Regions from separate parts of the Homo sapiens genome. Here all the other regions are reported to be linked to region 1. Evidence: microRNA targets listed by miRTarBase, many of them from high-throughput screens and not tested one by one. Region 1 holds a microRNA gene; each other region holds the end of a gene's coding sequence.

What was found. The annotated mature microRNA hsa-miR-378a-3p reads ACUGGACUUGGAGUCAGAAGGC and lies in region 1 at 1,113-1,134, shown strand. An mRNA with a match to its seed (bases 2 to 7 or 8) in the 3' UTR can be bound and repressed. Matches are read on the target gene's strand: a 7mer-m8 pairs with bases 2 to 8, a 7mer-A1 pairs with bases 2 to 7 and ends in A, and an 8mer does both.
Region 2: miRTarBase lists DDX39A as a target of hsa-miR-378a-3p. The part of its 3' UTR that is shown has no 7-base or 8-base seed match.
Region 3: the mRNA of FNDC3B is a reported target of hsa-miR-378a-3p. Seed matches in the 3' UTR shown: 8mer at 830-837.
Region 4: the mRNA of NDFIP2 is a reported target of hsa-miR-378a-3p. Seed matches in the 3' UTR shown: 7mer-m8 at 3,423-3,429 and 7mer-A1 at 3,770-3,776.
Region 5: the mRNA of TIGD1 is a reported target of hsa-miR-378a-3p. The part of its 3' UTR that is shown has no 7-base or 8-base seed match.

What each region holds. Positions count from the first base shown.
Region 1 is chr5:149,731,755-149,735,754 of GRCh38, forward strand. MIR378A (microRNA 378a) reads left to right here and starts at 1,071; the gene lies at 1,071-1,136. The region is part of intron 1 of PPARGC1B (PPARG coactivator 1 beta); the gene reads left to right. RefSeq lists a silencer at 1-223.
Region 2 is chr19:14,405,268-14,409,467 of GRCh38, reverse strand. It overlaps DDX39A (DExD-box helicase 39A), which reads left to right. Exons shown (of 11, transcript NM_005804.4): 9 at 21-165; 10 at 284-431; 11 at 516-670. The coding sequence ends at 532. ADGRE5 (adhesion G protein-coupled receptor E5) reads right to left here. Exons shown (of 20, transcript NM_078481.4): 14 at 3,529-3,720; 15 at 2,911-3,137; 16 at 2,702-2,768; 17 at 2,508-2,599; 18 at 2,239-2,407; 19 at 1,459-1,560; 20 at 745-1,376. The coding sequence ends at 1,347. Among named protein-coding and RNA genes, the nearest start is that of DDX39A, 12 kb to the left of the region's middle. RefSeq lists enhancers at 172-221, 1,442-1,671, 3,054-3,683, 3,817-4,111, 3,684-4,200 and a silencer at 3,020-3,539.
Region 3 is chr3:172,395,926-172,402,361 of GRCh38, reverse strand. FNDC3B (fibronectin type III domain containing 3B) reads right to left here. Exons shown (of 26, transcript NM_022763.4): 26 at 693-5,198. The coding sequence ends at 4,887. Among named protein-coding and RNA genes, the nearest start is that of GHSR, 49 kb to the left of the region's middle.
Region 4 is chr13:79,549,367-79,555,802 of GRCh38, forward strand. NDFIP2 (Nedd4 family interacting protein 2) reads left to right here. Exons shown (of 8, transcript NM_019080.3): 7 at 1,651-1,756; 8 at 3,150-6,436. The coding sequence ends at 1,754. Among named protein-coding and RNA genes, the nearest start is that of LINC01068, 14 kb to the right of the region's middle.
Region 5 is chr2:232,544,868-232,548,867 of GRCh38, forward strand. It overlaps TIGD1 (tigger transposable element derived 1), which reads right to left. Exons shown (of 1, transcript NM_145702.4): 1 at 1-4,000. The coding sequence ends at 3,240. CHRNG (cholinergic receptor nicotinic gamma subunit) reads left to right here. Exons shown (of 12, transcript NM_005199.5): 11 at 1-35; 12 at 676-3,248. The coding sequence ends at 849. Among named protein-coding and RNA genes, the nearest start is that of TIGD1, 3.7 kb to the right of the region's middle.

The sequences.
Region 1 (4,000 bases):
GCGACTTGGAAGGGACGCCGCAGCCGAGACGTTCAGCTCCGGGCAGCGACTTCGGGCTGGCGGCTGGGACGGCGTGGCGTGGCAGGGTGTCGCCGAGAGGAAGCCCGCCACGCGGGAGGCAGGCCGCCCCTGGCCCGCTGCAGACGCCGCTGCGTAGGGGAGCCGCGGGGCCGCGTGGTCGGTGGCGGGCGCGCTCGGGTGGGTTCGCGGCAGAGGCCGGAGGGGCTAGTGGCGTGTGATTGCGCTTCTCGAGATCGAGGGGAATGTGTGATGAGCGGGTTGCGCGCGCGGGTGTGTGTGTGTGTGTGTGTGTGTGTGTGTGTGCACACGCCGCGCGCGCCGGGCGCGTACCTTTACCTCTGACGAAACTGCGGTGGAGCTCCCGCCGTCGTCGCCGGGCTCCGTCACACGCCCCGCGCCGGTGTCTGCGCCGAAGGCAGGTCCCAGCCTCAGTACCCCCAGAGCCGACAGCTTGGGGCTAGCGGGCACTGAGTGCGGGAGGAGGGGCAGAGTCACTCCTGGGAAGATTCTGTCCCCAGATCTCGAAATTGCCCTGGGGCGTCTCCGAATCTCTTGGCTGAAAAGCGGATGAGAGAGGCCTGAAATAGCCGGAGACTCGTTCAGGGACCCATGTCAAGAACTGTCCGCTTTGGACTGTACCCCGGATTTTAACTCGATCTTCAGTGTTTGGCTCAGCAATAATTAATTATTTTGCCCTTTAGCCGCCCAGCGAGCCTAGCTAGCAGAAATATTTCAACTAAGGAAACTAGAAAATTGAATACTCAGGTGTTTGCAGGAGCAGTGCAGTGAAAGTTAATCTGGGACATTTGCTTTTTTTATTTAACCACATGACAGGCCGAGGATCTTCTGGTGATCTTTGCCGGCCCAACTTGGGAAATGTAATTGATAGGATGAGCTTTGAGCCGCCCCTAGAAGGCTCGGAGAGCCCAGCCGGAAGAGGACCTGGGCGGGCCCAGTGTGCTCCTCCTTATTTTACAGCTGGAGAAAGAGGCTGCGAGGAGTGAGCGGCTTGTATGGGACCATGCAGCCAGAGGGTGACAGAGCCACCCAGGGCTCCTGACTCCAGGTCCTGTGTGTTACCTAGAAATAGCACTGGACTTGGAGTCAGAAGGCCTGAGTGGAGTCACCTTCCCCACTCTCTGGCTGGGTGACCCCGGAGCAAGCCATTTGAACTCTCCGAGCCTCATTTCCTCCATCTGTCAAATGGGGCTGGTGGTGCCGCAAGAGAATCCAATGGCCTGGTGGTGGGGGTGAGCAGTGTTTGCATGTGAGATGTTCTGGTTGTTCCTGCAACCCCCTCTCCTCCCCCAAACTTTCCCTGACCCTCCCCTCCTTCATCTCCCTTTGGGAGCTTTGGGGAAAGTGGATTAAATGGTAATTCATTGTCTTTGTCCCAAAAGATTGTTGTTGTCTTTGGTGGCTAATCCAGGGTTAGATTAGAGGGAGGACTTCTGTTTAGGAGACTTAACTTTTACCCATTGGGGCCAAAGTACGGAAATTTAGCAGAACAAGGATTGCGAAAGTTTCTTGGAAAGCTTTGAGGCATGGATCCCAAAGGACTGTGGGTGGCTTCACCTTTGTTCAGGCTATGCCCCTGGCCCAGAGTACCCTCACTCACCCGTCCTGCATGGCCTTCTCCTCTACTAGGCTCTCCCAGCCCAGCTTGCCCTGCTTTCTCTCCTTTGGTTTTCTGCATCTGTGTGATACAACCAAGCACTTTGTGTGAGTCTGGTGTCCAGTAAGATTCTAGCACTAGGGTTGTACCTTTTATCATTGTGCCTGCAAGGCACCTGTCAGTATGCTGAGCTGTGTTCCTTTGCTTAGCTCTTGGCTAGGCACATGGATTACAGACAGGGGTGCAGCTGGGTCCTGCCAAGCAGAAGCTCCCAGGCTAGCAGGGGAGACAGCTGGGCAGCGAGTGTGGGAGAGAGGAATGCAGAGGGCTGCAGCTGTGGGCAAAATTTTAGACCCCAAAGGCCACACAGCAAGTCCACACTAAATATGGGCTATTTGAAGTTGCTTAGGGCATCAGTCATAGATGCACAAAATGTCAGAGTTGGCAGCGGGAATGTTAGAAATCATCAGTTCTAACAACTTATTTAAAAATATTTAATTATAGAATTGTTAGAAAATACTGCCAAGCATAAAGAAAAAAATGAGAAATATGTAACATGACCCAAAGATAACCACTTAATTGTCATGTATATTCCAGACTGTTTATTTCCTGTTCATATAGATCACATCTTATTTTTAAAAAATGGAGTCGCCGGGCACGGTGGCTCACCCCTGTAATCCTAGCACTTTGGGAGGCCGAGGCGGGTGAATCACCTGAGGTCAGGAGTTCCGGACCAGCCTGGCCAACATGGTGAAATCCTGTCTCTACTAAAAATACAAAAATTAGCTGGGCGTGGTGACACACACCTGTAATCCCAGCTACTTGGGAGGCTGAGGCAGGAGAATCGCTTGAACCCGGGAGGCGGAGGTTGCAGTGAGCCGAGATCGCGCCACTTCACTCTAGCCTGGACAAAAGAGCGAAACTCATTCTCAAAAAAAAAAAAAAAAAAAAAAAAGGAGTTATCCTGAATATACTGATTTGTAACTTGGAATTGCACTGTTCTGTAACTTGTTTTTTTTTTTCCTCTTCCAAACAATATGCTGTGAACATCTTTCCACATCAGTAAATATTCTACTTAGTATCTTAATGATTATATAATGTTTTGTTGAAGATTGAACCGAGATGTATTTAATTAATCCTTTATCGTTACTCATTTACGTTGTTTAATTTTTTTATTTTGCTATTGTAAGCAATGCTAAAACGAATATCTTTTTATGTATGTCTTTGTTTCTTCCTTTAAGTTCCTAGAAGTGAAATTACTCCATCAAACTCATTCCTGGATTCTCTTCTAGAAAGATTGTACTTATTTGTGCACTGGCATGGTCTGGGAACACCTGGTTTCCTATACCCAGATAACTGTTGATATTTTCATTGTTTTTCATTTTTACCAGTCTGTTCGTCAATAAATTCTGTTACCCTTATTGTTTTAATGTGCATTTATTTGATTACTTGTGATGCTAAACTTCTTCCCCATATGATCATGGGTGACTTGTGGTTCTGTGTTTCTGAACTTGGCCCATTTTGCAATTGGTATCTTGTCTCCTCGTTGTTCTAAAGCTGGGACTGAGCACCCAGAAGGGCCCCCTGCCACATGGAGAACTGGGAAAATGGCTCCACACACCCCTTGAAGCCAGGGCCAACTTCTTTTTCAAATCAGTTTGTAGATTTGGACAAATGTATAGTGTGTGGGAGAAGATTGAAGCATAGCCTTCACTGGGTGCATTTGCCCATTCTTTATCTGTGTGAGACTTAGGGAGAGTAACTTCTTCACCTGAGCCAGAAGGGGTCATGTTCACCAGAGACCTGGGCTCCACTTTCATTGGGATTCCCTGGCTGGTGCTAATGATCAGGATGCCTGTGAAACCCAGGAAGGGCAATGGCCCAGCAGCTGTGCCCCACGGGCTCATATTTCCTCTTTACCTTAGGGCCCTCCTCTTAGCAGCTCGTGCAGGCCAGGCAGAAGTTCCACTATGCCACGTGAGTCACCCTCTTCCTTCTTCCTCTGGAATAATAGAAGAAAGACTGGCTCGAGTGAGAAGCAGTCTTGCAAAGGGGGCTCAGGCTTGGAAATGCCTAACAAGAATATTGCAGTGTTGATCCTTGCCTTCTCCTTCATCGTCATCATCAGTGACGTTTACTGAGTATCCCCTATACCCCATGCAGTTTTCTGAGCCTTCTGTTTGCACTACTACATTTCATTCTCATAGATATTGTGCAAAATGTAGGTGCTGTTGCACAGCTGTACAGATCTTACAGTTTCAGAGAACTCACTGACTTGTGGAAGACTAATTACCTTTGAGTAAGTAGAAGAGCCAGCATTAGTGGGCAGTGTTCCCAGACTATTTGACTCTAAGCTCCTTGAAG
Region 2 (4,200 bases), not on the chromosome of region 1:
TTGTTTCTCCTGCACCCCAGCCTGTCACGCTATCAGCAGTTCAAGGATTTCCAGCGGCGGATCCTGGTGGCCACCAATCTGTTTGGCCGGGGGATGGACATCGAGCGAGTCAACATCGTCTTTAACTACGACATGCCTGAGGACTCGGACACCTACCTGCACCGGGTGAGCAGCCTCACGGGCATGTTGCTTTCCCCTGGCGGTGGGGTGGGGCCCCAGCCCTGCTTTTCCTCAAGTCCTGAGGTAGTATCTGTGGCCTGACCCTGATCCTGTCTGCCTGCAGGTGGCCCGGGCGGGTCGCTTTGGCACCAAAGGCCTAGCCATCACTTTTGTGTCTGACGAGAATGATGCCAAAATCCTCAATGACGTCCAGGACCGGTTTGAAGTTAATGTGGCAGAACTTCCAGAGGAAATCGACATCTCCACATACAGTAAGTGCCTTGGGCAGGGCCAGGGGTCTGGGGCAGAGGGTTCCTCCCCCGGCCCTTCAGTTCACTGCATCTCATGTCTTACAGTCGAGCAGAGCCGGTAACCACCACGTGCCAGAGCCGCCCACCCGGAGCCGCCCGCATGCAGCTTCACCTCCCCTTTCCAGGCGCCACTGTTGAGAAGCTAGAGATTGTATGAGAATAAACTTGTTATTATGGAAGCCTGGCTCCCACCCCATCTATTTCTTGGTCATCTTGGCCTTTCACGGACACCCTGGGCCCGGCCTCTGAATCACCACCAGCAGGCAAGGCCATCTTCTGTATGCATGTGTTTAATTTTAAGTGTCAACACTGAAAAATTTTAACAGATAAAAACACATTACACAACGTCTACAACCTTCACAACAGTGAGAACCTCCTGCCCGGCCAGGCAGGGCAGGCCTCTGTACCGTGAGCCTCAGGCAGTGGCCCCAAGGGGCCTCGCCATGGGGCCTCTGACATCAGTCTTAGCTTAAGAGGGAAGCTGAGCCCCAGCGCCTAGTCTCTTCAGTTCTGCAGCAAAGACATGAGAGGAAAAGTCCAGGATGGGACAAGCGCCCTTAGTCTGTCCCGAGTACTGGCCACAGGTGCCAGGGCAACATGCTGCATTGCAGCCCTGGGCCAGCCCCTGTCCCCACCCTGGGTCACAAGGTGGAGCAGAGAGGCAGCCAGCAGCAGGACCAGTGGCTCCGACTCCACCCCACTGGGTGTCCTGGACTTTGGTGCCAGACTATAGCTGCCACTCCCTCCTGGTGGCACACGGGATCAGGGAGGGAGGGTGGAGGGAGTAGAGTGGTGGACGAAGGGAGGATGGATGGTCTTCGTGTACAAAGCTGCTGTGGCCACAGGAGCTGCTGGGCCGTCCAGAACCATGCGCCTTCATATGCCGGACTCTGATGCCCTGAGGGCCTGGAGAGGAGAGCCCAGAGGCCTGAGCCCCGCTAGCCCTGGTGCCTTCCTGCCCACACCCGCCCCAGGCGCAGCCCCTTACCCGGGTCTGATTGTGGCCAGTGCCAGACGTGGTGGAGGTGAATTCTGAGTACTTGCTCCCCCCAGCAACTAGGCAGGCCCACTTCCGGTATTCTTCCCGAACCTGCCGGCCCAGACACCAAGTCAGGGCAGGAGCAGGCCCTGGGACCATGCACGCTCCTCCCCATGCTCTGCCCTCAGCCCCACCTTCTTGGTGTTTTTGTGTTTGTCTTTTTTTTGAGATCGGGTCCCCCTGTCACCCAGGCTGGAGTGTAGTGGCACCATCATAGCTTACTGCAACCTTGAACTCCTGGGCCCAAGTGATCCTCTTGCCCCAGCCTCCTGAGAAGCTGAGATGGGTATTCAGCACACCCGGCTTTTTTTTTTTTTTTTGGAGACAAGTCTCACTGTCACCCAGGCTGGAGTGCAATGGTGCCATCTTGGCCCACTGCACTCCTGGTTCAAATGATTCTCCTGCCTCAGCCTCCCAAGTAGCTGGGACTACAGGCGTGTGCCACCATGCCTGGCTAATTTTTGTATTTTTAGTAGAGACAGGGTTTCACCATGTTGGCCAGGCTGGTCTTGAATTACTGACCTCAGGTGATCTGCCCACCTCGGCCTCCCAAACTGTTGGGATTACAGGCGCCTCACCCTGGCTATCTTTGAATTTTTTTGTAAAGACAGCATCTGGTTATGTTGCCCAGGCTGGTCTCCAACTTCTGGGCTCAAGCAATCCTCCCACCTCAGCCTCCCAAATAGGTGGGAGGATGACAGGCGTGCGCCACTGTGCCCAGGCCCCCACCTTCTTGTTGAGCAGGCAGTGCAGCAGGTAGAGGAAGGCGCCCTGCAGGCAGTTGAGGATGGTAAACACATAGGTCAGCACCAAGCTCCGATCGTCGAAGATGAACAGGCCAAAGACCCAGGTGCAGCCCAACAGGAAGAGCTGCGCGATGGCCGTGATGGTCAGCGCCCTGCGAGGAGCGGGGTTGCAGCGTGGGCCCCCACCTCACCTCCAGCTTCATGCCCCTCACCCCGGCCCCGCCTCCAAGTCCTTCCAGCCTCTCCTCTCACCTCGCCTTCTTTAATTTCTTCATGTCTGGATTGATTTCAGAAAACTTCTGAGTGAGCTTCCAGACGGTAGTCACGAAAATGACAGCATTGCACTGGGCAGGGAGCAGATTGTGGGTTAGAGGGCGAGAGCGATGGTCCAGCCGGGCCTGGGCCTGTGGCGCTCGGGCTTCGGTGGAGGGAGAGTGGGTACTTACCAAAATGATGAAGGTCACAGGTCCCAAGAAGCTCCAGAGGAAGCCCTGCTCAAAGTCCAACCAGCAGCTAGGAGGGAAGGGAGGGGTCCCATCAGTGCCCCAGGAAGCCAGGAGCGGAACGGAGGGCGGCCGGACATTGTGTGTGGCACTGCCTGTGAGCCCCAGGCCCAGCACCCCGCCTTCCTCCTGCCCCATCTCGCTGCACTCACTATCTGGGGCGGCCGTAGCCCTTGCTGTAGATGGCAGCCGAGACGCCCACGATGAGCAGGGGCACGCCATAGCCGATCAGGCAGAGCCAGCGCGTACTCAGGCCCTGGCCTTGGAACACGCGCACCACAAGAAAGTAGAGCTCCAGGCCTTCGAGGCTCATCCAGCAGAAGGCGGCCAGGAAACAGTAGTGCAGCAGCCCGGCCACCAGGCGGCAGCGCAGCCCCACCTGCGGGGCGGGGACGGAGGGGCGGAGCGACGTCAGCGCGGGGAGGGGCATGCGGCGCCAGAGCCAGTCGCCTGCCAGGTCCCGAGAGTGGGCGGGACCACAGCCGGAGGGTGGGCGGGTCTGGAGCGGGGGCCAGGTTTCCCCCCAGGGCCCACCCCCAACAACGCTCAGAAGCGAGCGGGCACTCGGGGTGTGGCCAGGCAGCTCCAAAGCCAGCGCCCTTTAAAGAGACAACCCGACCCCCCGGTGGGCGGGGCCAGATCCCGGACAGGGGCGGGGCCTCATGCCTCCAGGGCCCGCCTACCCGACTGAGCCCCGGGAGTGGGCGGGGCTAACCCCTCCCAGGCCTCCCTGACCCCAGAGCTCAGGAGGGAGCGGGGCGGGACCTCACCTGGCCGCCTTCGTTCTCGATGCCGGCCAGGAAGATGGTGGAGCCCACGAAGAGGCAGATGCAGAGGTGCAGGTGTATGGTGGTGCGCGAGCCCTGGATGGGCCGCACCAGCAGGAAAGTGAGGATGCACAGCAGCAGGCAGAAGAGTGACAGCGCCAGTCCCACCCTGGTGATCAGGGTCAGCTTCCAGTCCTAGGAGTGGCACCGGGTGCTCAGGGTTCCTTCAGGGCATGAGGCCTTCCTGCCCTCTTTGTGGTCCCTTTTCCCCCCCACACTTTGACGGGCCCACCTCTCTGACCTCCTCCCTTGTCCCTCCTAGATCTGGCCACACTTACCAGCTGGAAGGGGAGTCTAGGGATTTCACATTTTTGTGCTTGCTGGGCCTTTGGCCTGGACCACAGGCGCCCCCCTTCTCTGCCTGGTTAATTGCAGTTTTCGACAAGGCCCAGCTTAACGATGGATCCTACTGAAGTCACGTACAGAAAGTGGTGCTCCAGGCTGGGTGTGGTGGCTCATGCCTCTAATCCTAGCACTTTGAGAGGCTGAGGGGGGGCAGATCACCTGAGGTCAGGAGTTCGAGACCAGCCTGCCCAACATAGTGAAACCCCGCCTCTACTAAAAATACAAAAATTAGCGGTGCATGGTGGCATGCACCTGTAATCCCAGCTACTT
Region 3 (6,436 bases), not on the chromosome of region 1:
TGTTGTTCCCAGCCCATGAGGCTCTTTGTAATGTTCTTCCATAAGCCTATGTTCACTAATTTGCTTTTGATATGGTGCCTTCATTCTCAACTGTGGATCGTGTCTCCCAGTCCAGGGACTTTCTATTTGAACCTTCTCCTGAGGATACACCTCTAGGCTTCTGCAAGAGTGATGGAGGTGGGTGGGGAGGAGGGACATTTTTGTCCAGCTGAAAAAAAAAAGGGGGAGGGATTTTATTGATCTAACTGCATTTTAAACAGCTTTCAACCAATACTATTTTAGCCTCCTCTCTCTCTTCACTATCACTTCAAAGGGATATGTTGCTGTCAATTTTTGAGCCTTTAGGGTATCCTGCATTGAGAATAAAAACACTGATGCTCATTTTCTCCTCTGCCAAATTAGAATTAAGTTTTGTTGATCATATTTCCAAAATTCTGGTGCCAATAACTCCTCTTTCTTCCCAGTCTTGAGGGTTGAGTTGTGACTTAAAAAAATAAAAAATCCTTTACTTTTAGTGGTGTCAGGAGCATTCAAAATTTGATGTGCTCAATTTGTCATCTTTACCCAGAATAATTACCATGCTTCATATAAGTGAGGTTCAATAAAGTGACAGTTTTTTTTACCCATTTTCCTGAAAAATAAAAGAGATAGTGGGAATTCCTACTAAGACAATCTAAAATCACAAAACCATGGCCATAGCAGGAACACTGTGTTTTATTGCTGTTGTTGTTGTTGTTGTTGAATGAGACCTGCAGGAAAGGACATGAACACTCTATAGAGTTCGTCAGGGGAGAGGAAGCACCCAGTGTGCCAGGTGAACAGAGGGAGATCTGGACTGAGTTTTGGTAGACAGATAAAGTATTAGGCAACAAGGTACATTATCCACAGAGACTCTGATAAAGGATTAAACTGGCAGCCTGTATAGTCCACAATCACCTTTTAGTTGGCCCATGGAGGAAATCTGGATATTTAGCTTCTTTTGAAACATGGACATATGTGATTGTGGCTCACAGTCCTCCAAGGCCTTGGTCAGCAAGAGCTGAGCTGCTGCTGTCTCTGCAGAAGGCCACCTGCCTGGCCTCCAAAAACACGTGAATTTTCAACTAATCTGAATGTGCTTTAAGTATTTAAAAGGGAAGAATAAGGCTGGGTGCGGGGGCTCACACCTGTAATCCCAGCACTTTGGGAGGCCGAGGCGGGCAGATCACGAGGTCAGATCGAGACCATCTTGGCCAACATGGTGAAACCCCGACTCTACTAAAATTAAAAAAATTAGCCGGGCGTGGTGGCGGGCACCTGTAGTCCCAGCTACTTGGGAGGCTGAGGCAGGAGAATGGCATGAACCCGGGAGGTGGAGCTTGCAGTGAGCCGAGATTGGGTCACTGCACTCCAGCCTGGGCGACAGAGCAAGACTCCAACTCAAAAAAAAAAAAAAAATTATCCGGGCATGGTGGCGAGTGCCTGTAATCCCCAGCTACTTGGGAGGCTGAGGCAGGGGAATCACTTGAACCTGGGAGCTGGAGGTTGCAGTGAGCTGAGATCGCGCCACTGCACTCCAGCCTGGCGACAGAGCAAGACTCCGTCTCAAAAAAAAAAAAAAAGAAAGAAACAACAACAACAACAACAAAAGCAATCCTAGTCATGGCAGAAAAACCCTATTTAAGTCAGAAAGAATTAAAACATTTATTGGGCATAAATATATTACATATACACTACAGATACAGTTAGGTATTACATATAGCATAATATTTGCAAAATCTATACATTAAAATTGATATGGCAGTTTTAATACAATGTATATGAAATAGTCTAAAATTTACAATACAGGAAAACATGATTTTCTTTTTCTCCTAGAGTTGAAAAGCTTGGAATGTATGTCCAACAGTGAGGTAAAACATTTTATCTTTCAATTTAAAGAATTGTGCAAGGATAACATTCAAACACATTCAATTAGGGCACTTCTCAATTTTGACATGAATACTGAATTATTGTAGCCAACAAAACAAGGTTAGAAAATGCCAACATTTCAAGTTGATAAGAACAAGGCAGAGAATATGCAAAAAATCTCTTTAAAAAGTTTTCTTTTTCAACAATTTCTTTGAGGACAAAGGGCAGTTTGCTTCACATGACTGGAATTTCTTGTGCCAGGGATGAGTTTGACATACAGAGAAGAGTCAGAGCATCAGAAGGCCACTCATTCACTCCTCACATAGCAAAAGGGCAAAGAGATCAGGTTAATAGAACACTTTATTTTATTGTTCGTGTGTGATGGCAATATATATAGTTATATATCAATATCACATATACATATTTGTGATAAAAAACAGTGCCATAGAGAGTAATAATTTTCTGACTGAAGGAATATAATGAATACCAAATAATGGAGAGCAATAAAATAAAGTGCTGTCAGCTTTGTACTTCACACACTTCAGCTTCCTGGTGGTTAAATGATAGTATGAAAATCTCAAGAAGATCAAATATTCATATAAATTTTGGCCTAAAGTACTATTTACTTAAAAAAAAAATTCAACCAATTAGAGAATTTCTTTATAGCAGCAGTTCTGAAGTGTTTCAAAAAAGAGACTTCCCCAACCCCCCAAGAGGGGGCTTTGTACTCAGTTGAATTTTCATTGCTTAAAAAATACCTCTCCCCAAAACACCTGCATGGAATTTTTTAGAAAATGCAGATGCTGTGGTCATAGTGGGTCATAGCACACATTTAAATAAGGGGGTGAGTTTTGGAAGGCCAGAACTTTGGCAAAAATATATTTACCTTGATGCCATCAGTTTGCAAAGCTAATTAAACTAATTATTATAGTCAATAATAAAATACAGAACTCTCTAGTACTCACTACGTCAATATAGGCACACAGAATAATTCATTGATCTCAGCATTTTCTTCCAAGAGATGATTATGGTTTTTGGGTACATGTAAACGTTTCAATCACTGATAATGTATTTTTTTTTTGGCATTTAATGCACTAGATGCTCTTATCTTTTTAAAAACATAAGAAAATGTCAGAAGATTAATAATACTACAGATGTTGCCAAGGAACAAGACTGACCTAAAATTACAAAAGTATAAAACACAAAAATATAACATGCTACAAGGGAAAATTAGTACATAAGTACACTTAAAAAATTTTACAATAAATAAAGATTGCACTGTAATTGGCATTTAAAGTACTGTATGCAGAATATAGTATAAATAAACCAAAAACAAAATAATGTTTGTTTCCCCATGACTTTGGTATGGGAATATTATAAGCTAGTACAGGATACTGCATCTTAGACAATAAAGATCAAGCACAAAATAGCTATGATCAAGAAAAACCAAGTAGCAAAAATATACAAAAACAGAAGCAGGGGGATACACTGTGTCTGTTGCACCCTTTTGGAATATATTTGCACCTCCAACTCTTAAATGTCCCTGAGGTACTCGAACATTATGGACTTCATATAAATAATCCAATGACTTTGGGTTAAAATTGATTATCTCATGACTCAAAATAAACACGTAAGAGTAACACTTTGCACTCCAATAGCACCTGTTGGTCAAAGATCTCAAAGCACTTACAAACATTAGAATCCCCGTTTTATTTTATTTTATTTTTCATGCATGGGAAAACTGAGGCACAGAGAGGTAAAGTGACGTGTTCAGGTCACGCAGCAAGTTAGTGACAGATCCAGGGAGAGAATCTAGGCTCCTTGATCCCCAAACACCCTGTGTTTACCATCAAACACCATTCCCTCTCCAACCATGGCCAGGCAAACCCACAGAAATAGGAACTACAAATTTAGATGACTCTCTTTTGGGTTTTATCAATTTTCATCTGCTGTTACATTAGTATTATGTGCACTGAATTAAGGTATTGAAATTCAATCACTTCATTGATACCTCAAAGAACAGCCTAAAGGCAAATGTTTCAAAAATAATGAGCTGACACATAAGAAGACTGCTCACAATTAGTGTAAATCATGGACAATGGGCAGAGGCACTAAACTGTCACCAGTTCTTGTCATATAATTCTGGTCAAACATAACAGAATATAATAACTCTAGTGATTAGATTAGAAGTAGTTATATACAAAGACAAACAAACAAGTTAAAGCAGCCTTTAAAATAGCTGAACAAGAAAACAACTAACTATTGCACAATGCCCTCTTAAAGTTACTGCTATGAATTGATGTGGTAAAATCTACAATGCTCCATAATTTATAGGTGCATTCTGGTTACTTGATTTCTTATACAGGCAGCTCATAGTGTTAAAATTATAAGAAATACAGATTATTAAAACATTTTAGATTAAAGTACACATTTTGATTTAAATGAGCTAAACACAGTTAAATAACTGAGTGACAAAATGGTTGTTTAGGGCAGTCTTATCTGAGTGAACATATCTTCTGTATGTTGCTGTTGCTGTGTGGTAATACTCTGACAACACTGAAATCCTAGCCCTGTAAGTACACACACGGTGATTCATGTTTACAGATACAGATGTTCAAGACATATGAAGTGACTGGTGAATATAAATTACTAAACTGTAACAAAAAAAAAAAAATCAAAGGCTTGCAAAAGACATCAGTGAAAACAGAATGAAGGTAAATCTGAAAATTTAAAGGAAAACATAAGAAAGCTAGCTTTTGGTATCTGGTATACTTTTCTTCTTTTTTTTTCTTTTTTTTAAAAAAAAAAATCCAGTTTAACCTTTTCCTAGTTTTGCATTTCAAAAAGGTGCACCAAAACACTGACATTTTTTTTCTAGCTAAATCTGTAAAACAGAGTATATAAATCAAAAAACAAAAGGGCTTTAAAAAGGGGAGTATCTGAATAAATGTGTGTATTAAAATGTGTAGCATTAATTCATACCTCTAGTTTTGTTGGGTTTACTTCATTAAGAAGTACTGTAATATAAAGGCAAATAAAATGGACAAAGTTGCAAAGCCAAGCACAATGATGGCTGCAAACTGTTCATCAGTAGGCATCATGCTCTTCATTTTGGGATCATCTAAGCTCCCCATGTCCCCTGTAAGCATGACCTCACTTCGTTGTAATACAAAAGCCGCAGAGGGGCTGAAGGCTCCGCTTAGCTCCTGAGAGGTGTCTAAACAGCGACGACACGCACATACGCGGAACCTGTAGTCTGTGTTGGTCTGGAGGCCTGAGATTTGGAATGTGGCTTCTTCTCCCTTGTACACCTTCAGGAAAAGAAGAGTCCTAGTTAATTAATTTATAGCAACACTGTTGTCTCTAGAAGAATCTTGGTTTAGATTCACTCCATTCACTCTTGGTTTATATTCACATTCACTCTTATAACAAAGATGATATAAAAATGTACTTCTCTCAATCTGTATTCCAACCATAAAAAGGGTATTCCAACACACTTTGAATGAAACAATATAAAATCCAGTGACTCGAACTTTGACAGAAGGAGATAAGGCACTGACTAGAAATGCAGCTGACATTTTAAGTAGTAAGGATGCATCTCACTAAATTTTAATAATTTAGGTCAGCGGTCCCCAACCTTTTGGGCACCAGGGACTGGTTTTGTGGAGGACAAGTTTTCCACGGACAGGGGTAGTTTCAAAGTGAAATTGTTCCACCTCAGGTCATCAGGTGTTAGATCCGCATGAGGAGTGCACAACCTAGATCCCTCGTATACACAGTTCACAATACGCTTCATGCTTCTGTGGGAATCTAATGCCTTACTGATCTGACAGGAGGCAGAGCTCAGGCAGTAACGTTCCTGCTTGTCAATCACTTCCTGCTGTGCGGCCTGGTTCCTAATAGGCCACTCACCAGTACTGGTACCCGGCCTGGGGGTTGGGGACCCCTGATTTAGACTATAAATCAGAAGATGTCATAATACAAATAGGTCTATGTTTTTGGTCCCAAGAACAAAGTTAACATTCTAAAATGGAAACAATTAAAAACTGAGCAAACAAAATGTAAATTTTCCAGCAGGATGATTTTTTGACAACTGGATACATTACAAACGCATCCCCTCAAGATATCCCACCTCCACCCCAAGAGGTAGACACTATAATGACTTCTAATTCTGTAATTAATTTTGCTTATACTAGGAGTTCATATAAATGGAATCATGCAGAACACACTCCCTTGTGCCTATGAGATTCACTCATGTTATCGAGCTATTCGGTAGTAGTTCCTTATAACTATACCTTAATTCCTCCATTTTCTTTTCGATGGACATTCGGGTTATTTCCAGTTTGGAGGTTTCGTATAATAAAAATGCTATTAATAAGAATGTTATGAATGTTTTTGTTCAAATTTTGAGAACTTAAGTTATTTTTCTGGGTAAATACAAGGAAGTGCTGGGTCACAGAGTAGTTCTGTAGTTAACTTCACAAGAAACAGTTTTCTCAAGAGATTGGATCCCTTTGCGCACGAGAGTCTGAGTTGCACCACATCCTCT
Region 4 (6,436 bases), not on the chromosome of region 1:
AGTCTATTAAGTATTTAAGCATATTAAATGAGTACATTTGTGTGTATATATATATTATTTAGAGATTGGAGGAATCTTAAGGAGGTTAGTGTGGGGCAGAGTAGAATACAGAGGACAATGCCAGTTCCACTTCAGAGCCATAATCTAGTGTTTATTTATTTAGGGGAATGTGAAAATGTAATCAGTGATAAAAATGTTGCTCTCACATATGCTGAAAAGAATGTTGAGCACTTTGTAGAATGCTGAGAAACAGTAGCCACTGAGCGATTGGTTTTTAGGTATGAACTGGGTGGCTTCTTTTAGAAAATGCCTGAGAAGTAAAATGTGTGTTAGAAAACAGCAGCTTTAGAGACAAAGGAAGGGATCCCACAAATAAGTTGGTTTACATTTTTCAATAATATTTTTACATTTGGATAACAGTATTATTATCTTTGAACAGCATCTGGAAGGGCATGAGGGTGGAATTCAGAAGGAGTCCCAAAAGGAGGGAGTTAGGATATGGGAAGCAGATGCGATTGGGTTTAGCTGTAATTTATACCATTTAAGTCATCATTTGTATCTCTCTTCTGTCTTTCCTCTCCAATTTACTACACACATGCTTCTTGTTTTTAGTGATTTGATTACTGTCTTGCAGTTGGGGTACAAATTTAGTTTGAGACTTCATATTTTAAATTCACAAACTCCTTTTCCTCCTGGTGAGGAAAGTCATACACATACAGTAGATATCTTCTGTTTTTGTTTTTGGATCCCCCCCACCCTGTTTTCCTGGTTAAAAATTTGCTGGAGTTAATAAATGTTTCCCTAAGAATCATATGCTTAAGTATTTCAAAGGCTTATACTAGTAATGGTAATGTTTTATACTTATCTAATATTTTTTATGTGAAACTTTAGAGAATTTTACAGGTATTGCTTTTTAAATTATTAAATATATTTGTGGTTGTTATTTTAAAATACTACTTTACAAAGGAGAAAACTGAGGTAGATATAAGATGTATCCCAAATAATCTAAATCATTAGAGTGACTGTCTTCCAAGTTGTCTTTTCTAACTCATCTTAATTTTTTATTATAAGTTAGTTTTTTATTATTACTTCAAAATAAGAACTCATAATTAAAAATATGTACATAATGCACGTATCTTCAAATACAGATTTCACAGATGACAGGCACTTGATATTACTATACAGGCTTATTGTTTTTTTCCTCATAATTGTTAGTAACCTCATGTATATATTTCCTTTTTATCTACTTTATATAAATAAATATGTCTTAGTTCACCCAGTAGTTATATTAATTGAAAAGATTGAGCCCATGGGTTCAATGGGGTTTTTATGAGTTGAATCAGTTTAAGTGCGTCAGGTAACTTTACTATTGAAGAAAATCACTTAAATGTATATTTTTATGTAATTCTGGATTTTTATAGCTAGATTTGCTTTAATTTTGGTACATCTAGGCTTAACAAATTGAAAAATTGTATTTCCTTGTGACAGAGTTTATCCTTATAGTGTAAAATATATTACAGAAATGAATGGAAGTCTGCAAGTAAAATTCCTTAAGCCAAGAGGATCTTGTTTATAATTGTCTACTTTAAATTTATCTTGCCCTTTTCTGTATAAAAACATAGTATATCCATATTATTTCAACCTTCTCAGGCCTGCTCCTTTTCTTCAGAGGATTTGTTAATTATCTAAAAGTCAGAAACATGTCTGAAAGTATGGCAGCTGCTCATAGAACAAGGTATTTCTTCTTATTGTAGAGGTAAGAAATATTAATCTGTGAACTCTGCCTATTCCCTTTATGTATTCAAATTTGCCAGATACATATTAAATGCCTAATGTGTATTCATGATTTTTACTGTTAGCATATTTAATATTTTTTAATACTGCTAACAGTCAGCTTATTGAAATTTGATAAGTCATAGACCTTTTTAGATAACTTTTAGATTTTTAAAATTGAATTTCATAAATTTTAATTTTTAAAATACATAGCGAGTGAACTGAAATTTTGAATCAGACTTTTAAAACTTCTCTTTAAAGATTAACCATAGAATGTATATGAAGTAACCACCAGCACAAAATTTGAAGGCTTGAAAAAACAAAATATGACATAGTACTTAGACCGAAGGAATGAGCATTTTTGTCTAAAACAATATGAAATTCACATAGACATCTGGTGGAGAAAAAAATCTGATTGAAAAACAATTTGTCTTGCAGTCCTTTTAACAGTCTGGATTAAGGAATAAAAGTCATGTGAAGAAAATAGTTCTGTTATTGTTTTCTTAATGTGTGCTGATTTTTTATCAACTATGAAGGCTACAACTTGAATAAGTAGGAATATGAAGAAATGAGTAGAAGTTGTCTTACTGGTTATCCAGTGAATTTCTGGAGGTCGTGGGTATAGTAATAGTATTTATTTATTGTTCAGCGGGAGTATCTTCACATAAAGTAACCTCATACTCCCTATTCTACTTTTTAAAGCAAGTACCATGTACTTTATACCTATAAATAAGGTAAACTTATAAAGCATTTGAACTCTATTACCAAAATGTCTACTAGTACTTAACTTCTGAATGCAGGACTATAAGGAACAAAGTGTTTCAAGTTTATTAAGTATTCTTTTTTCAAATAAATAAACTGCATGCTTTGTGATTTGGTTGCTTACATTTTATCATTTATATAAGTTATACATAAGCTTATATAATTTACTTATTTCTGCTAGAGTACTATGAATACATTTGTATTTCTAGATCATGTTAAAGTATCATTTTAAGTGTTCTACTAAAGTCTCCCCCAACCACTCCCAAAGAAGTCGCTTTTTTATTTTAACAAGCAAAATATCTTTGCAGACACTGGCATTAAGAATTTGTCAGTATTAATAATAAGATTAAAAGGCAAAGTAATTTTGCTGTTTTACTAATTTGTGTGATTGTCTTCTATGCATTTTGAAGAGTCTAAAATACAATGCAAATATTTTCTAGATGAAAATCTGCTATAGAAGCCTTACACTTTAGAATGTATTCTGATATGTAGACTTTAATGAAGAGAATATTATATACTTAATATAATTCTTCTATAAAATGTGTTGTATTATACTATGATTTAGATAAAGACAACTTAATACATTTTAAGACTAATTCCTTCTTTGTCTCCAGACTGCATCAACCCGACATTCCTTTCTTATACCAATGTGAAATTTCCAGATCATCTGTAAACCTACAACTTTAATAGAAGACTACTAATAACAGAAGACAAATTAGTGAAGAAAAGACGGAGTTTCGAAATTGAATGGCAGGGTGGTTTTTGCTTACAAGCCATTTCTGTTCATTCTTTAAGTATCTATATTTCATTTGTTTTGCACATATGCATATGTGCCCATTTAAGATATTTGCATATACTTGATAGAAACCATAAAGTTGTAGCAGTTAAGTCCAGTCACATTTGGTTAATCAGTGTTTGATATAATTGAAAGAGTTGAGTGGATAAACAGTCTTCCAGCTTGTAAATGCCATTGACTTCTGACCTGACATTTAGTATAATAAAAATGAAATTCTTAACCATGTCAAATGATTTAGTTTCTGGCTCTTAGACTCATCTGGCAGTTCTACACATGAAACATCTTTTGTTATATAAGGTGTATTGAAACCTGCAGTGCTGATTATTAGAAAGGATTTGTCAGATTTTTGAACATGATATTTACATTATTATTTAGGAAAACTCTTCCTGTAAATAACCATGCATAACTTACTTTCTGCAATGTTTTCTTAGAAATTGTGTCCAGATAGCTTTCACTAATTTTAAATTAAGTGAACTAAATATATATGTGTATATGTATACACATATATATACACACACACATATATATATTTAGAAACGTGAGTGTTAAAGATAGAATTTGTTTTAGGACAAATTTTAAGAAAATGTGGGAATACCAAATGTCCTTTATAAGAAAAATAAATTTTATTTTAAGGGACATACTAGTTTTAGGGATTTTCAGATGGGAAGCTGCATTTTTAGGATTGCCCATCTTAAGAGATCTTGCAGGAAGAGATTGTATTAGATATTATATTTATTTCATTTAAGATAATTTTCAAAGTTAATTTTCTAAATAAGATAATTCTCATTTGTGTTTGTCTTTTAAAAGGCCAATAAAATATCTTTCAGTATCATTGTAATAATTTTTTAGAGTTTAATTTGTAAAGCTTAGCAAATAAAATCTTGTACTATGAATAGCTTCTTGCTTTATGACTTTAGGATTAACTTGTAAAAAACATATCCTGAACTGAGATATGCAAAATACTCATTTTCAAGTTATGGAAATGTGTTTGTGGCATATAGGACTGTGGGGTCTGTGTGTGTAGTGAGAGTGTGTAGCCACTATTATAACTGGAATTTAATTTACATTCATAAACTACTATATTTCCCATCTTGCAAATCATTTTATGTCTCATCTGTTTTTCCTTTCGGTTATATCTTTGGTTTTGAATACCAACATTTAAAATGATGGTATTTTATCTTTTAAACTTAAAAATTATTTAATACAGCTATATGGACCTTATAAAATTGATTTCTTATTTATTATTAGACATTACTACTAAAAGGTACATCTAACTATTCAGGGACATTTTTCCATTTCCAAAAAATAAAATTTATTATGCTTTATAACCTCTTCTGTATTTTCTAATTTTTTCATTGTCTTTGATAAATAAAACAGTTTTGTTTTGCTAATATAGCCTATTTTTTGTTTTGTCTCATTCAGTTTACTTTCCTGCGTAGAATTTTTATTGTTATATTAAAATTTTTATTGTTGTATTAAAGTACCTGTGTTACACCCCTTGAAGTAAGACAGTAGCATGGGGTAAAGAAAAAATATTTAGTTTAGTTGCCTAATTTGGAAGTTAATTAAAATTAAACTGTACTAATAACATATTCAAACTCATGCTGGATCTCTTTCATATTAATTTCTTATAGACCTGTACTTTATTCTTTCAATAATTTTTAAATGAAATTAAGCTTTGCTACATGGTAATTAAATAATTACTAGGAAGCTTAGCTATCAAACATCGACTTACTAAAATTTCATTTTAGCTTTTATGGTATATGTGCTTGTTTTCTGAATATGGATACATGTTACTTTTGATCCAGCATCAAAACTTCACTTTTTGTTTTGACTTTTCCCCCCAAATCTGTAAGGTTCAAGTATACATATTACTGAATCCTCTATAATTGGCATAATTCAATGGTAGCCTTAAATCTCATCATGTAAGCAGGGGAATCAGAATGTTATTTTCAAGAACTTAATGTTCCCTTCAGATATATAAAATCCTGCATACTTCATTTCCTGTGAGCTTGAACAGCTGCTGTTGTGTTTTGGGGATGCTTGATCATCTTTGCACTCTGCCTTAAAGATTGAAAAATCAAAACTCTTGTTAGGGTATCTAAACATTTTTGAGTGTGAACTGGGGATTGGAAGTTAATACAAAAAAATTTCAAATTATTTCTATTGTAAATGAATAAGCTAGTCATGGCTAGGATAATCCATTTTCATGTATTTATGCAATAAACTGAATTTTAAGGCAAAAACAACACTTTTCTATATAGTGTATGCAGGACAGATTTTAGAAACTTAGATTAAAATACAAATCCCATTACATTTGGTTAAAATGAAAATCTCTGCTTAATGGAAAAAATACTAATCTTTAGCCTATTTTGAGTCTATAAGATATATTTCATTTTAGACATGCCTTCTAAGTTGTTCACAGATTTTTACCTGCTAAAACAATATTATTTCCAGTAAAACCTCTCCTAACAGGAAAAGTGGAGTTCAAAATATCCAATTGGAGAAAAATTCAGAGTTCCTTCATTAAATATAATTTTTTTCATCTAGTATGTACTATTTCAAGAAGTGCAAAAAGTAATGATAGTGAATGTGATACCATACTTAACTAAGGTAATATATATCCTTAGTTTGCTCAAAAGAGTCCTGGTTATTCCTGTTTTCTCAGCTTAATAGTGCCTCATCGTACTCTCAAAAGTGTTCTAATTTGGAGGATAAGTTATATGATCATCCTGTGTATAATTGTAGACTGTACCAAGAAGCAACTACCTTAGCTCCACTGCCCTTTGAGGGATGGAACTGGGGTAAGGGCAGGAGCCAGTTATTATTGCCACAGTGTTTTCTAATGAACCATTTGGCCTGTAGAAGAGGAATAGTATTTTTTTTAATAGTTGTATTTGAATGATTCCAGCTTATCGTAAATACTAAACTGAATGGCTTTTATATTTTTAACTGCTGTTAAATGTTATTTTAGCATTTATTAGTTGTTTATTATTTAATTCTTCAAATAGTCATATGAAAACATATATTTGATAAAGGTCAATTGTTAGATGATAATGTGCCATTCATTATCATAGGAATGTCCTTGCCCATATATAAAACATG
Region 5 (4,000 bases), not on the chromosome of region 1:
CCTGTGCCCGGCACCAGCAGAGTCACTTTGACAATGTAAGCTGAGTCAGGGTGGGGTGGAGGTGGAGTGAGTACCTGGGCTTGGAACCGTGATAGAGACAGGATGAGTGGGGTTGCCAAGATAGGGCAGTGGGATGGAAAAACATGAGGCCGGGTGCAGTGGGTCACACCTGTAATCCCAGTACTTTGGGAGGCCGAGGCGAGTGGATCACCTGAGGTCAGGAGTTTGAGACCAGCCTGGCCAACATGGCAAAACCCTATCTCTACCAAAAATACCAAAAATACCAAAAATTAGCTGGGTGTGGTGGCGGGCACCTGTATTCCCAGCTACTCAGGAGGCTGAGGCAGGAGAATTGCTTGAACCTGGGAGGCGGAGGTTGCAGTGAGCCAAGCCAAGATCGCACCACTGCACTCTGGCCTGGGTGAAAGAGTGAGACGTGAGACTCCGTCTCAAAAAAAAAAAAAAGGAAAGAAAGAAAGAAAAAGGAACAGGGGCAGGGGGGGCACCTCAGGGCCAGGGGGCCATGGAATTAGCCACCAGTTGGGACCCGGACATAGGTAAGAAGGGCCCCAGGAAATGGAGACATGGGCCTGCTGGAAGCCCAAGGATGAGAACAGGACCCAGGGAAGACCTGGTGCCGCCGCTGGTTATCCCACACCTGCCTCCCACCCTCAGGGGAATGAGGAGTGGTTCCTGGTGGGCCGAGTGCTGGACCGCGTCTGCTTCCTGGCCATGCTCTCGCTCTTCATCTGTGGCACAGCTGGCATCTTCCTCATGGCCCACTACAACCGGGTGCCGGCCCTGCCATTCCCTGGAGATCCACGCCCCTACCTGCCCTCACCAGACTGAGCCAACCAACCACTGTGGGGCATGTGGGAGTCACACACGTGGGTCACACTGAGTCTTATCAGCCACGTTCTCCTACTGAGGTCCTAAGTGTGCTCTTTGGGAAGTGCCCTTCAGGACTGTGTGAGCCAAACAGCCCTGAGAAAAGCTGGGGAAACAGTCTGAGCTGGAGTCCGAGAGTGGTTGGGGGTGGGCCGTGGCTAGTGTCCTGCTGCAGTCAGCACACACGTGGGATTGGCTAGCTCATCCTGGCACCAGCCACCCCTCCACTCAGTGCACTCCCCTCACTTAGGCAAAGCATTATTCATTCCCATCAGTCTGAAGCCCGAAGGACTGTTTTGTATAATACCTTCGGACTTGGGACTGGCTCCCCTTTTACAAGTTCTCCCTGAAAGAGGGCAGTCACAAGAGGTGTGAAGAGTAGCAGCCGATGCTCTCTCCAAAGCAGGGCAGCAGCCCATACCAGCTGGCATCTCCCCCCCGTGCCTTCTGGGTACAATAAGCACCCAATTCTCAACAGCCCCAGTGGCCTTTCCATTCATGTGCATTTTTCTGCCACTGACCACAAGACGATTTCCTGAGTTTTGTAATCCTCTTTTTTTTTTTTTTTTTTTTAGTTTTTGATGTGTTGTTGTTGTTTTGTTTAGTTTTGAGATAGAGCCTCACTCTTGTCATGCAAGTTGGAGTGGAGTGGCATGATCATGGCTCACTGCAGCCTCAACCTCCAGGGCTCAAGCAATGCTCCTGCCTCAGCCTCCCAAGTAGCTGGCACCACAGGCATGCACCACTACACCCAGCTACTTTTAAATTTTTAGTAGAGATGAGGTTTTGCTATGTTGCCTAGGTTGGTCTTGAACTCCTGAGCTCAAGTGATCCTCCCACTTGAGTCTTGGGATTACAGGCATAAGCCACTGTACCTGGCCTCCTTTTTAATTAAGAGCTCCTCACAGCAGTATGGATAAGCAAGAGTCATTATTCCCCATGTTATATAGGCAAATTGAGCCTAGAGTAAGCGGGACTCCACACAACAGTGGTGGTTAAACAAGGTTTGAAGTCCAGAATTCCTGACTCTGACCCAATCTGACACTCTAAGATTCTACGGCCTGAAAAACAGGCCCTTCTTCCCAAAGGATGGTTAAGACAAGGAAGAGCTAGGCAAGAGGAGGTGTGGAGTTAACAGAGAGCCACTGAGCTCTTCATTCCAGGAGGAGACTTTGACTGGCCTCCCTTGACCCCACTAATCAGGTAGTAAGGCTGGGGTCTTCCTGGGGGAGAGGCAAGGTCCTGCTCTGAGATTACAGCCGGCACACGAGTTTGGCTGGTAACCAGGGGACACCCTTGGGCAAGTCACCTATGCTCCCTGAGGCTGTTCCCTCATCTGTAAATAAGGTGCAAAAAATAATCCATTCCTGGCCAGGTGTGGTGGCTCACACCTGCAATCCCAGCACCTTGGGAGGACAAGGTGGGTGGACTGCTTGAGCTCAGGAGCCCACGAACCCAGGAACCCAGCCTGGGCAACATGGGGACACCCGGCCTCTACCAAAAAATACAAAACTTAGCTGGGCGTGGTGATGCATGCCTGTAGTCCCAGTTACTCGGGAGGCTGAGGTGGGAGGATCGCTTGAGCCCAGGAGGTCTAGGCTGCAGTGAGCTGTGATCATGTGACTGCACTCCAGCCTGATGACACAGTAAGACCCTGTCTCAAAAAAAATAAAAAAATTACAAAACTGAAAAAAGAAAAGTGAAAGTGCCACATAAAGGCCTGACGACAGGATATGCTGGCAGGAGGGGACCTTGGAAATATGCCCTCCCTCCAAGCACAGGATTGCTGTCTTTGGGATTCAATCACCAGCAAGTTCGTATTATTTACTCCAGTGTGAGTCTGTGTCTGTGCATGCACAGTGTGTTTGAAGCAAGAGCAGAGTCAGAGCTATAGAGAACTAGAGGAGTTAGGGAGAGTGGGGGAGAACTTCAATCAGGGAGGGAATCTGATGACAGTGGGGCCATTTCCGGTTCCCACCAGCCCCTTACTAGTTGTGTATCTGGCACAAGTCTCTCAACCTCTCTGAAAGCCTCAGAGGGCAGAGGATTAGCTCCTTGTACACAATAAACACTCAAATGTTAACATTAGCTGCCATTACTATAAGTTACTGTCTCATGGGATCCATACAGCAACCTAAGGAGGTAGGTCGAGGCATACCTCAAAGACATTGCAGGTTCAGTTCCAGACCAACACAAGAAAGCAAGTCACATGAATGTTTTTGGTTTCCCAATGCATATAAAAGTTATGTTTACACTATACTGTAGACCAGCAAGAGTGCAATAGCATTGTCTAATAAAACAATATACATACCTAAATTTAAAAATACTTTATTGCTAAAAAATGCTGATTATCAATCTGAGCCTTCGGTGAGTCGTACTCTTTTTGCTGGTGGAGGGTCTTGCCTCGAGGTTGATGGTTGCTGACTGGTCAGGGTGGTGGCTGCTGAAGGTTGGGGTGGCTGTGGCAATTTCCTAAAATAAGACATCGGTGAAGCTTTTCGCATGAGTTGACTCTTCCTTTCATGAAAGATTTCTCTGTAGCATGCGATGCTGTTTGATAGCATTTTGCCCACAGTAGAGCTTCTTTCAAAATTGGAGTCAATCCTCTCAAACCCTGCTGCTGCTTTATCAACTAAGTTTATGTAATATTCTAAATCCTTTGTTGTCATTTCAACAATGTTCACAGCATCTTCACCAGGTGTAGATTCCATCTCAAGAAACCACTTTCTTTGCGCATCCATAAGAAACAACTCCTCATCTGTTAAAGTTTTATCATGAGATTGCAGCAATTCAGTTACATCTTCAGGCTCTACTTCTAATTCTAGTTCTTTTGCTATTTCCACCACATCTGCACTTACTTCCTCCACTGAAGTCTTGAACCCCTCATAGTCATCAATGAGGGTGGGAATCAACTTCTTCCAAACTCCTGTTAATGTTGACAATTTGACCTCCTCCCATGAATCACGAATGTTTTTAATGGCATCTAAAATGGTGAATCCTTTCCAGAAGGTTTTCAATTTGCTTTGCCCAGATCCATCAGAGACATCACTATCCATGGCAGCTAGAGCCTTATGAAATGTATTTCTCAAATAATAAGACTTGAAGGTCGAAA